Homo sapiens: one gene and its partners. The protein of the gene in region 1 purifies or fractionates together with the protein of each later gene. This does not show direct contact. Each region holds a gene or a part of one and is shown in the gene's direction. Other genes may lie near its edges.

The links.
Region 2: the proteins of DTWD1 (region 1) and SPATA33 purify together in Homo sapiens (affinity purification with mass spectrometry; one large-scale study listed by BioGRID and IntAct). This does not show direct contact.
Region 3: the proteins of DTWD1 (region 1) and GALM purify together in Homo sapiens (affinity purification with mass spectrometry; one large-scale study listed by BioGRID and IntAct). This does not show direct contact.

The regions. Positions count from the first base shown.
Region 1 is NC_000015.10:49,639,026-49,641,676, forward strand, and holds part of DTWD1 (tRNA-uridine aminocarboxypropyltransferase 1), read left to right. Parts: exon of another isoform or gene 1-1,798; intron 1,799-2,651. UniProt on the Homo sapiens protein: Catalyzes the formation of 3-(3-amino-3-carboxypropyl)uridine (acp3U) at position 20 in the D-loop of several cytoplasmic tRNAs (acp3U(20)).
Region 2 is NC_000016.10:89,664,239-89,667,896, forward strand, and holds part of SPATA33 (spermatogenesis-associated protein 33), read left to right. Parts: intron 1-3,658. UniProt on the Homo sapiens protein: Plays an important role in sperm motility and male fertility. Required for sperm midpiece flexibility and for the localization of sperm calcineurin to the mitochondria. Promotes mitophagy as well as acts as an autophagy mediator in male germline cells.
Region 3 is NC_000002.12:38,669,067-38,672,724, forward strand, and holds part of GALM (galactose mutarotase), read left to right. Parts: intron 1-3,658. UniProt on the Homo sapiens protein: Mutarotase that catalyzes the interconversion of beta-D-galactose and alpha-D-galactose during galactose metabolism.

The DNA.
Region 1 (2,651 bases):
TCAGTTTGACTGTATTGATACAACTTTTAAAGTGATAACTTTATTCATATTATAAGCTTTGCCTAAACTACACTCCCTGTCAGTGAGTGCTGTGTCCTATACTACCTTATTCAATCCTCACATCAAATATATGAGGTAAAGGATGTCACCCTCACTTTGCAATTGAAGAAACTGAGGCAGCACTTTTGGAAGGAAAAGCCATTTGTAATTATCTACTTTAAGTTTCTACTGCTAAAATATTTTACTAGTTTTGAGCCAGGTGTAGTGGCTCATTCCTGTAATCCCAGCACTTTGGGAGATGAAGGTGGGAGTATCACTTGAACACAGGAGTTCTAGACTAGCCTAGGCAACATAGCAAGGCCTACATCTCAACAAAAAATAAAGTAATTAGCAAGGCGTGGTAGTGTGCACCTGTAGTCTTAGGTACTTGGGAGACTGAGGCAGGAGGATTGCTTGAGCCCAGGAGTTCAAGGATGCGGTGAGCTATGCTCATGCCACTGAACTCCAGCCTGGACAACAGAGCAAAATCCCACCTCAAGAAAAAATGTTTACGATTTTTACTATAATTTTATTATAAAGTTACTGATTGTTAGAAATACTAGGGTATAAAAAATATTTTGCATTCAAGAAACTGAAATATTTAATGTTGTCTAGAATGCATACATATATGAGAATGGTAAAAGAGACTGGAGAAATTCAAATTATGAATGTCATATTTTATTCAGCATGCTTGGGCATTTGTTCTTTTATCCATAGTGCTGTGGCATCATTAAAAAATTTTTAAGCTTGTCATTGACATGATTAGATTGTATTTTAAGTCTAATGGAAAGAATTGGGCTGGGACATGACTTCAAGCTCCAATTCCTTCACTAAATAAGCAAAGAGGTTTTGTTTGTTTGTTTTTAACTGTTTTATATTTTTAAATAAATTGTGATACATATGAAATAATATATACACACACACACGTATATGTAACATTAAGTTATAAAGCATAGTGATATAATGAACAATTAAGAACTCAAGCACCAGTATTTCTAACTTCCATTTACCTATGTTTTCCCTTGTGCCATTCCCCTTCTTCCCCTGACAGTTATTTTCCTGAATTATGCTTTTTTAGATTATAGTGTTATATATATGTTTTCATAAACTATATATGATTTAGTTTTGCTTTATTTTGAGCTGTGTGTTGTTTTCTTGGGACTTGCTTTCTAAAGTCACATTTTGTTTCTAGGGTTTATATATATTGTCATATCACTGTAGCTATAGTTTATTCTATTTCACTGCTGAATAATATCTGTGATATACTACAGTTTATCTGGTTTCCTGCTAATGAAACACTTTGGTTATTTCTAGTTTTTCCTATTGCAAATAATGCTACTACACACATTCTTGTGCAAGTACAAGCTCCTCTAGGAAACATCCCTAGGAGTCACATTGCTGAGTTGTTGAGTATGAGAATATTCACCTTTACAGGATAATGCCAAATTGTTTTTCAAAGTGGACATACAAAGGAATATTTCCATCATTAATGTATAAGCGCTCCATTGATCCATAATCTCTCCTACCTTGGTATTATCAAATGTCTGATTTTTGCCAACCTAGTATTTTAAAATGGTGTCTCATTGTCATCTTCATTTACTTTTCTCTAATTACTAATAGGATTGATAATTACATTGTTTATTTGGCCATATACGTGTCCTATTCTGTGAAATATCTATGCCCATTTTTCTGTGTTTTATCTTAATTGATTTGTAGAAATTCTTTGTATATTCTAGAATATAGATAATGTTGCAAAATATCTTCTTGCAGTTTGTGGTTCATCTTTTCAATTTCTTTTCTTTTGAGGAAAAAAAACTTTTAGTGTGGAATTTATCACTATGTTTGTGTCTTGTTTGAATCCTTCTCTTCTGCAAGATACTATGTGGCTAATGATTTGCCTGAGGTTTTTTGTATTTTCTGTGTAAGTAATGCCAATTGCATTTCTTTCCAGTTCTTATCCTTCTAATTAATTTATTGTTCTTTATTACTATGTTAAATAAGAAAGACCTCTAATGCAATATTTAATTGAAGCCAGTTATTTAATTGTAGGGGTCATCCTTCTCACGTTTCAATCTGATAATCTATGTCTTTTAAATATTAAGTTTAGTTTATTTACAATTGCTGTGAGTATTGAAATAATTGGATCTACTTTCTACCATCTTAATTTTTATTTCTATTTGTCCTTTTTTATAATTTTTGTTTCTTTTTTTGATTGAGGTTTTTTCTTATTCTATTTTTATTCCTATTTCAATTATTTTAGAGAATTGCCCATATCACTTAAAAAGTTCAAAGCCAAACAATGTTTAACCTCTCCTTTTTTACATTGTATGGACTTTGTATGCTGAAGCTTCATTCAGCCTCCTCCTGGTTCACATTGTTATTGTTAATATCATTATTTTTGTCTGTCGTTTATTGTCAGTCTACAAATTAGATATTATTATTGTTTTTGTTTTATACAGGCAACATTTATCTGGATTTGCATAGATGTTTACCATTTTCTTTACTCAGTGTTTTATCAAATACATCCTTTAGGAATTCCTTTAATTTGGTCTCTTGTTGGCGTATGTTCAGTTTTCATTTGTCTATTAAATGTTTATCACTTTTTTCGTGAT
Region 2 (3,658 bases), on another chromosome or scaffold:
TACATCTATGAGAGGCCAAAGAATATCAGTTGACTCTGGATCAGGGGCTCGGACACGTTGCTGTGGAGGCACACATCTTCCTGGAAGGCGGTTTGGTAACAAGGTGGCAGGACTCAAGACAGCCCACACGATCCCTGCCCCTGGGAAACAGCCATGTGTAACCCTCCCCTCGAGTGTGGGTGGAATGAGGAAGAGGGAGGTGTGTCTCTCCTGCGATTAGCTCACTCATCCATTGAGTTTGACGTCATCAAAATGCGAGATGATCCTGGATGGGCCCGACCTGATCAGGGAAGCCAGACAGTAAAAGTGTCAGAGGCTCTTTAGGGCCCGACCTGATCAGGGAAGCCAGACAGTAAAAGTGTCAGAGGCTCTTTAGGGCCCGACCTGATCAGGGAAGCCAGACAGTAAAAGTGTCAGAGGCTCTTTAGGGCCCGACCTGATCAGGGAAGCCAGACAGTAAAAGTGTCAGAGGCTTTTTAGGGCAGCGAGAAAACGGGAACTTCATTCCTTGAACCGGGAATAAATTCTGCCTCCAACCAGAATGGGCTTAGAAGAGGGTCCTCCAGCTCCTCATGAGAATGCAGTGCAGCCGGCCCCTGGAATTCAGCCTGCGTCCCAGCCACGCTGCACCTGCACCCCTGACGACGAATGCAGTAAGATGATAAGTGGATGTGCTGGTTTCAGCCCTGAAGTTGGTGGTGATTTGTTGTGCAGCAATAGAAGTACACACAATATGTACCAAGAACCTTGAGAAGAGTCACATTTATTCTTTCTGTTTTGTTTCTGAGATGGTCTCACCCAGGCTGGAGTGCAGTGGCACCATCTTGGCTCATTGCACTCTTGACGTTCTGGGCTCAAACGATTCTCCCACCTCAGCTCCCTGAGTAGCTGGGGCCACAGTGCACGCCACCACCCCCAGCTATTTTTTGTAGTTTTTGTAGAGATGCGGTTTTGTCATGTTGCCCAGGCTGGTCTCGAACTCCAGAGGCCAAGCAATCTGCCTGCTTCAGCCTCCCAAGGTGCTGGGATTACAGGCGTGAGCCACCGCACCTGGCCCAAGATTAATATTTCTTTTTTTTTTTGAGATGGAGTCTTGCTCTGTCGCCACCCAGGCTGGACTGCAATGGTGCATCTCTGCTCACTGCAAGCTCCGCCTCCCGGGTTCATGCCATTCTCCTGTCTCAGCCTCCCGCATAGCTGGGACTACAGGTGCCTGCCACCACGCCTGGCTAATTTTTTGTATTTTTTTTTTTTTTAAGTAGAGATGGGGTTTCACTATGTTAACCAGAATGGTCTTAATTTCCTGACCTCGTGATCCGCCCGCATCGGCCTCCCAAGGTGCTGGGATTACAGGCGTGAGCCACTGCGTCTGGCCTAATATTTCTAAATGAAGAAACTATACTTTGAGGAAGATGAAATAAGTCTTGTTTTAGACTAGAAAATTTCAATAGTGTAAATACGTTAACTTCTGTAAAATCAGTCAACACCAAGTCAAAACACAAAAGATCTTTTGGGAATATGAGCAGATTATTCAAAGGTTCATCTAAAGAATAAAAATGAGGCCAAGTGTAGTGATTCACGCCTGTAATCCCGGCACTTTGGAGGCCGAGGCAGGTGGATCACTTGAGGTCAGGAGTTCAAGACCAGCCTGGCCAACATGATGAAAGCCCATCTCTACTAAAAATACAAAAATTAGCTAGGCGTGGTGATGGGTGCCTGTAGTGCCAGCTACTTGGGGAGGCTGGGGCAGGAGAATCACTTGAACCTGGGAGGTAGAGGTTGTAGTGAGCCAAAATTGTGCCACTGCACTCCAGCCTGGGCGACAAGAGTGAGAATCCATCTCAAAATAAATAAATGAATAAAAATGAAAGCAGTAGGAAACATCTGGAAAACCAGAGGCATGAGGGGGTCGGGCCCTCTGATACTCAAGTAGGTTAGAGTAAAAAAAAGCCAGATATGGTGATGTGGGAATATATGGTCCCATAGGTGGGATCTGTGGTTCCAGCTACTCAGTGAGGTCCGAGGATCACTTGGGCCTGGGAGGTTAGGACTGTAGTTTGCTATGATCACATCCACGAATAGCCACTGCGCTCCTTCCTGGGCTACAGAGTGAGACCCTTCTCTAAAAATGGAAGAAAATGGCCGGCACAGTGGTTCATGGCTGCTGTAATCCCAGCGCTTTGGGAGGGTGAAGTGGGAGAATAACTTGAGCCTGAGAGTTCGAGACCAGCCTGGGCAACATGGCAAAACCGTGTCTCTACAAAAAATTTCAAAATTAGGTGGGTGTGGTGGTGTGTAGGGTCCAGCCCCACAGGGTCGGTGGGTTTTCTCCCCATGTGCGGAGATGAGAGAGCGTAGAAATAAAGACACAAGGCAAAGAGATAAAAGACAGCTGGGCCCGGGGGACCACTACCACCAAGCCGTGGAGACCGGTAGTGGCCCCAAATGCCAGGCTGCACTGATATTTATTGGATACAAGACAAAGGGGCAGGGTTAGGAGTGTGAGCCATCTCCAATGATAGGTGAGGTCATGTGGGTCATGTGTCCACTGGACAGGGGGCCCTTCCCTGCCTGGCAGCCAAGGCAGAGAGAGAGGAGACAGAGAGACAGCTTACGCCGTTATTTCAGCATATCAGAGACTTTTAGTACTTTCACTAATTTGCTACTGCTATCTAAAAGGCAGAGCCAGGTGTACAGGATGGAACATGAAGGTGGACTAGGAGCGTGACCACTGAAGCACAGCATCACAGGGAGACGATTAGGCCTCTGGATAACTGCGGGCAAGCCTGACTGATGTCAGGCCCTCCACAAGAGGTGGAGGAGCAGAGTTTTCTCTAAACTCCCCTGGGGAAAGGGAGACTCCCTTTCCTGGTCTGCTAAGTAGTGGGTGTTTTTCCTTGACACTGACGCTACTGCTAGACCATGGTCTGCTTGGCAACGGGCGTCCTACCAGACGCTGGCGTTACCACTAGACCAAGGAGCCCTCTGGTGGCCCTGTCTGGGCATAACAAAAGGCTCACACTCTTGTCTTCTGGTCACTTCTCACCATGTCCCCCCAGCTCCTGTCTCTGTATGACCTGGTTTTTCCTAGGTTATGATTGTAGAGCGAGGATTATTATAATATTGGAATAAAGAGTAATTGCTACAAATTAATTAATGATATTCATATATAATCATGTCTGTGATCTAGATCTAGTATAACTATTCTTATTTTATATATTTTATTACACTGGAACAGCTCGTGCCCTCGGTCTCTTGCCTCGGCACCTGGGTGACTTGCCGCCCACAGTGGTGCGTGCTGGTGGTCCCAGCTACTTGGAAGGCTGAAGTGGGAGGATCATTTGAGCCCAGGAAGTTGAGGCTTCAGTGAGCCATGATCATGCCACAGCATTTCAGCCTGGGCCACAGACCTTCAAGATCCTGTCTCAAAAAGAAAAAGGGATATCGCTCAGTGCTTAGTGCAGCTGTGGGTCATTCGGCAGCTGACACAGATGAGGCTATGTAACGCAGCACTGCAGGCAGAGGGGGAGGCCAAGGCCTGAATACCCCGTCTGACTAGCCTTAGGCAGGCGACTTGGCCTCTCTGCCTCCCCCATCTGGTTAGCCTTGGGCAGTCGAGTTGGCCTCTGTGTCTCCCCTGTTTGACTAGCCTTGGGCA
Region 3 (3,658 bases), on another chromosome or scaffold:
TTCTAAAGAAGAAAATTATATAAATTTTTAGTTACAGTAAGAGAGGAGACCACCCCTCATATTGCCTTATGCCCAATTTCTGCCTCCAAAGAAAGAAGTAAAAACTAAAAGGCAGAAACGAAATCCACAGGCAGACAGCCCGGCACTACGCCATGGGCCTGGTAGTTAAAGATCGACCCCTGACCTAACCAGTTATGTTATCTATAGATTCCAGACATTTTATAGAAAAGCAGTGTGAAAATCCCTGTCCTGTTGTGTTCTGTTCTGATTACCGGTGCATGCAGCCCCCAGTCAGGTACCCCTGGCTTGCTCAATCGATCACGACCCTCTCACGCAGACCCCCTTAGAGTCGTAAGCCCTTAAAAGGGACGGGAATTGCTCACGCGGTGAGCTCGGCTTTTGAGACGCAAGTCTGCCTTCTTCAATCCGGTGTCTAAGGAGTTTTGTCTGCGGCTCGTCCTGCTACAACAGCCTAGAAAAATCAGTAATGCCTCCTATGAGTTTTTCAACCTTTTTTTGTATTTAAAAATGTTTTTTGCCGGGCACGGTGGCTCACGCCTGTAATCCCAGCACTCTGGGTGGGTGGATCACAAGGTCAAGAGACAGTGACCATCCTGGCCGACATGGTGAAACCCATCTCTACTAAAAATACAAAAATTAGCTGGGCATGGTGGCGCATGCCTGTAATCCCAGCTATTCAGGAGGCTGAGGCAGGAGAATCACTTAAACCTGGGTGGTGGAGGTTGCAGTGAGCCGAGATTGTGCTACTGCACTCCAGCCTGGTGACAAAGCAAGACTTCATCTCAAAAGAAGAAAAAAAAAGTTTTTCTTTTTTTTTTTTTTTTTAGTGCAGTGGCGCTATCTCGGCTCACTGCAGCCTCCACCTCCTGGGTTCAAGCGATTCTCATGCCTTAACCTCCCAAGTAGCTGGAATTACAGGTGGGCACCACCACACCCGGCTAATTTTTGTATTTTTAGTAGAGACGGGGTTTCACCATATTGGTCAGGGCTGGTCTCAAACTCCTGACCTCAAGTGATCCACCTACCTCAGCCTCCTAAAGTGCTGGGATTACAGGTGTGAGCCACCACGCCCAGCCTAAAAATATTTTTCATCGGCATGTCCCACCTACAGTCATTATGATTTCTTTCAAAGCCTGTGCTGAAAATATTTGCTTATAAGCCACAGGTATAAACAACCTACCCATACAATCATTGAAACGCCTTCCTTTTCATGTTTCCCCCAGTTGCCACCAAAGACCTGGCTATTAACTGCCATGAGAGGCATTAAGGAAAAAATAGAAAAAGTAAATTTAGTGCCTTTAGAAAACCTGGGTTCAGAAGCAGGGATGAGGAAAAAAAAGGATCAGGTTAGAGGCTGCAGTTTATTGTCGCTCACGCCCAGGAGCACCCTGGTGGGAGCATTGAAAATTCCTGGTTTAAAGTTCTGCTTCCTTCCTTAAAGCTGTGCGACCCCGGGCAATTTACTTAAACTCTCCAGACCTATTTTCTCACGTGAAACAAATGGATTGTGATGATTTAATGAGCCATGGGCTGTGATATGTGTCTAACCATATCTGACCACATATTTGATACGTCTCTGATCAGAGGGAGCAACTAATCATTTTTATCCCCTTTCTTTCCTTTGCCCCCAAATACCATCTCTGACTCTACTAGAACTTTTTATTTCACTTAATTAACACTGCAAAAAATGGCATGGAGATTCAACTAGGACAGCAAGCAGCCACTAAAAAGTATATAAATTATCTGAGATTACTAAAGTGCTTATTAATTAAATTGTTTTCTTCATATAACCAAAGGATAAGTCATTCTGTGAATGGGGGTTTTGATTGAGAGTGGTGAGTAATTTTATTTCAGACTTTAGTGCACTCTGGCTAATTTTGGGCTGTCCAAATTGGGTGTCACAGTGTGGTCCTTGGGTTGTTAGAGGAGTGGAAAGGGCCATATCCCATGATTAAGCATTTATTAATTTATTCTCGCCAGTGCCTTGCCCAGGAAAGGGGGAAGCGTTTCCTCTACTCTAAGCTCAGCAATTGACTTGGTTAAATCAATATTCATGGCTTGACCTAGGAACTTTGAACATTTTCATGAAAAATAGTATTTTCTGCATTTCAAAACAAATTTTTAGCCATGCCTTATTCGGGATTTGGGGATTGTCACTTTTGTAATTCCGATTTGATGTGAAAGCTTAGTAACTATTAGTCCACTGCTATAGAAGAACTGCCTGAGACTGGGTAATTTATAAAGAAAATAGGTTTAGTTGACTCACAGTTCCTCATGGATGGGGAGGCCTCAGGAAACTTACAATCATGGCAGGAGGCGAGGAGGAAGCTAGACAGATCTTACACGGCAGTAGGAGAGAGACAGAAAGGAGGGGAAATTGCCACTTTTAAATCATCAGCTCTCGTGAGAACTCACTGACTATCACAAGAACAGCATGGGGGAACCGCCCCCCTGATCCAATTACCTCCACCAGGTGGGATTACAATTCGAGATGAGATTTGGGTGGGAGCACAAAGCCAAAGCGTATCAGTAACATTTGAAGGTAGTATAAAATTTATTTGTTCTAAAGGGTTTTTCAGAGACAGGATTTCTGCTGTGCTTAAATTCTTAAAAACTATTCCTCCAGGGGCACAGTGGCTCTCACCTGTAATCCCAGCACTTTGAGAAGCCTAGGTGGGAGGATCACTTGAGCTCAGGAGTTCAAGACCAGCCTGGGCAACACAGGGACACTCTGTCTCTAGAAAAAATACAAAAAGTATCCAGGTGTGGTGGCGCATGCCTGTAGTCCCAGCTATTTGGGAGGCTGAGGTGGGGACCTGAGCCTGGAGGTCAAGGCTGCAATGAGCCGTGATGGCACCACTGCACTCCAGCCTAGGTGACAGAGAAAGACCCTGTCTCAAAAAAACAAAAACAAAAACAAAAAAAACCCTGATAATTATGGGGAAAAAAAAAAACAACAAAAAAACCCTATTCCTCCAAACCAAGGAACTGGCCTGGCAAGTGCTTCTTATCTTCATGACGTGATTGGTTTTGGGTAGTGGTCACTTGTAAGGGAATTCTTGCAAGCCCATGTGGTAGGAGCCCTGCTGTTGGCTTTGTGGTTGTCTCCAACACCCAGTGTGCCTCTGGCAGAGAGCGGGAGCTCAGTGTTCACTTGTTGAATGAATCAAAGTAGGACTCAAAAATCTCTACAGTCAAACATCTTGTTTTTTAGAAAAAAAATTCTGCTTTTCTATAATTTTTGAGCTTCTGAAAAGCGGATGAAACAAAACCAAGGAAAGATTGTTTGGCTCTTTGGGACTCCTTTTGGTTAACCAGTGTATGGGCTTTTAAAGCTATTTTCAGAAAGAGAAGAAGGTGGGGAGAGGTGGGAATAGGAGAGAGAGAGATCAGCCTGGCCTGTGCCTAGGGATGGAGGTAAGGTTAATAACCAGAAAGCCTGCGCTTTTCACATAATTTGATACTGAAGAACATGGACTCATGAGCTAGACTGTCTGGATTCAAGTCTTGGTTCTGCCACTACTTAGCTGTGTGTTTTGGGGCAAGTTATTTAACTTTTCTGTCCTCAGTTTCCACATCTGTAAATTGGGATAGTAATAGTGTCTACATCATAGAAACGTTCTGAGTATGAAATGAA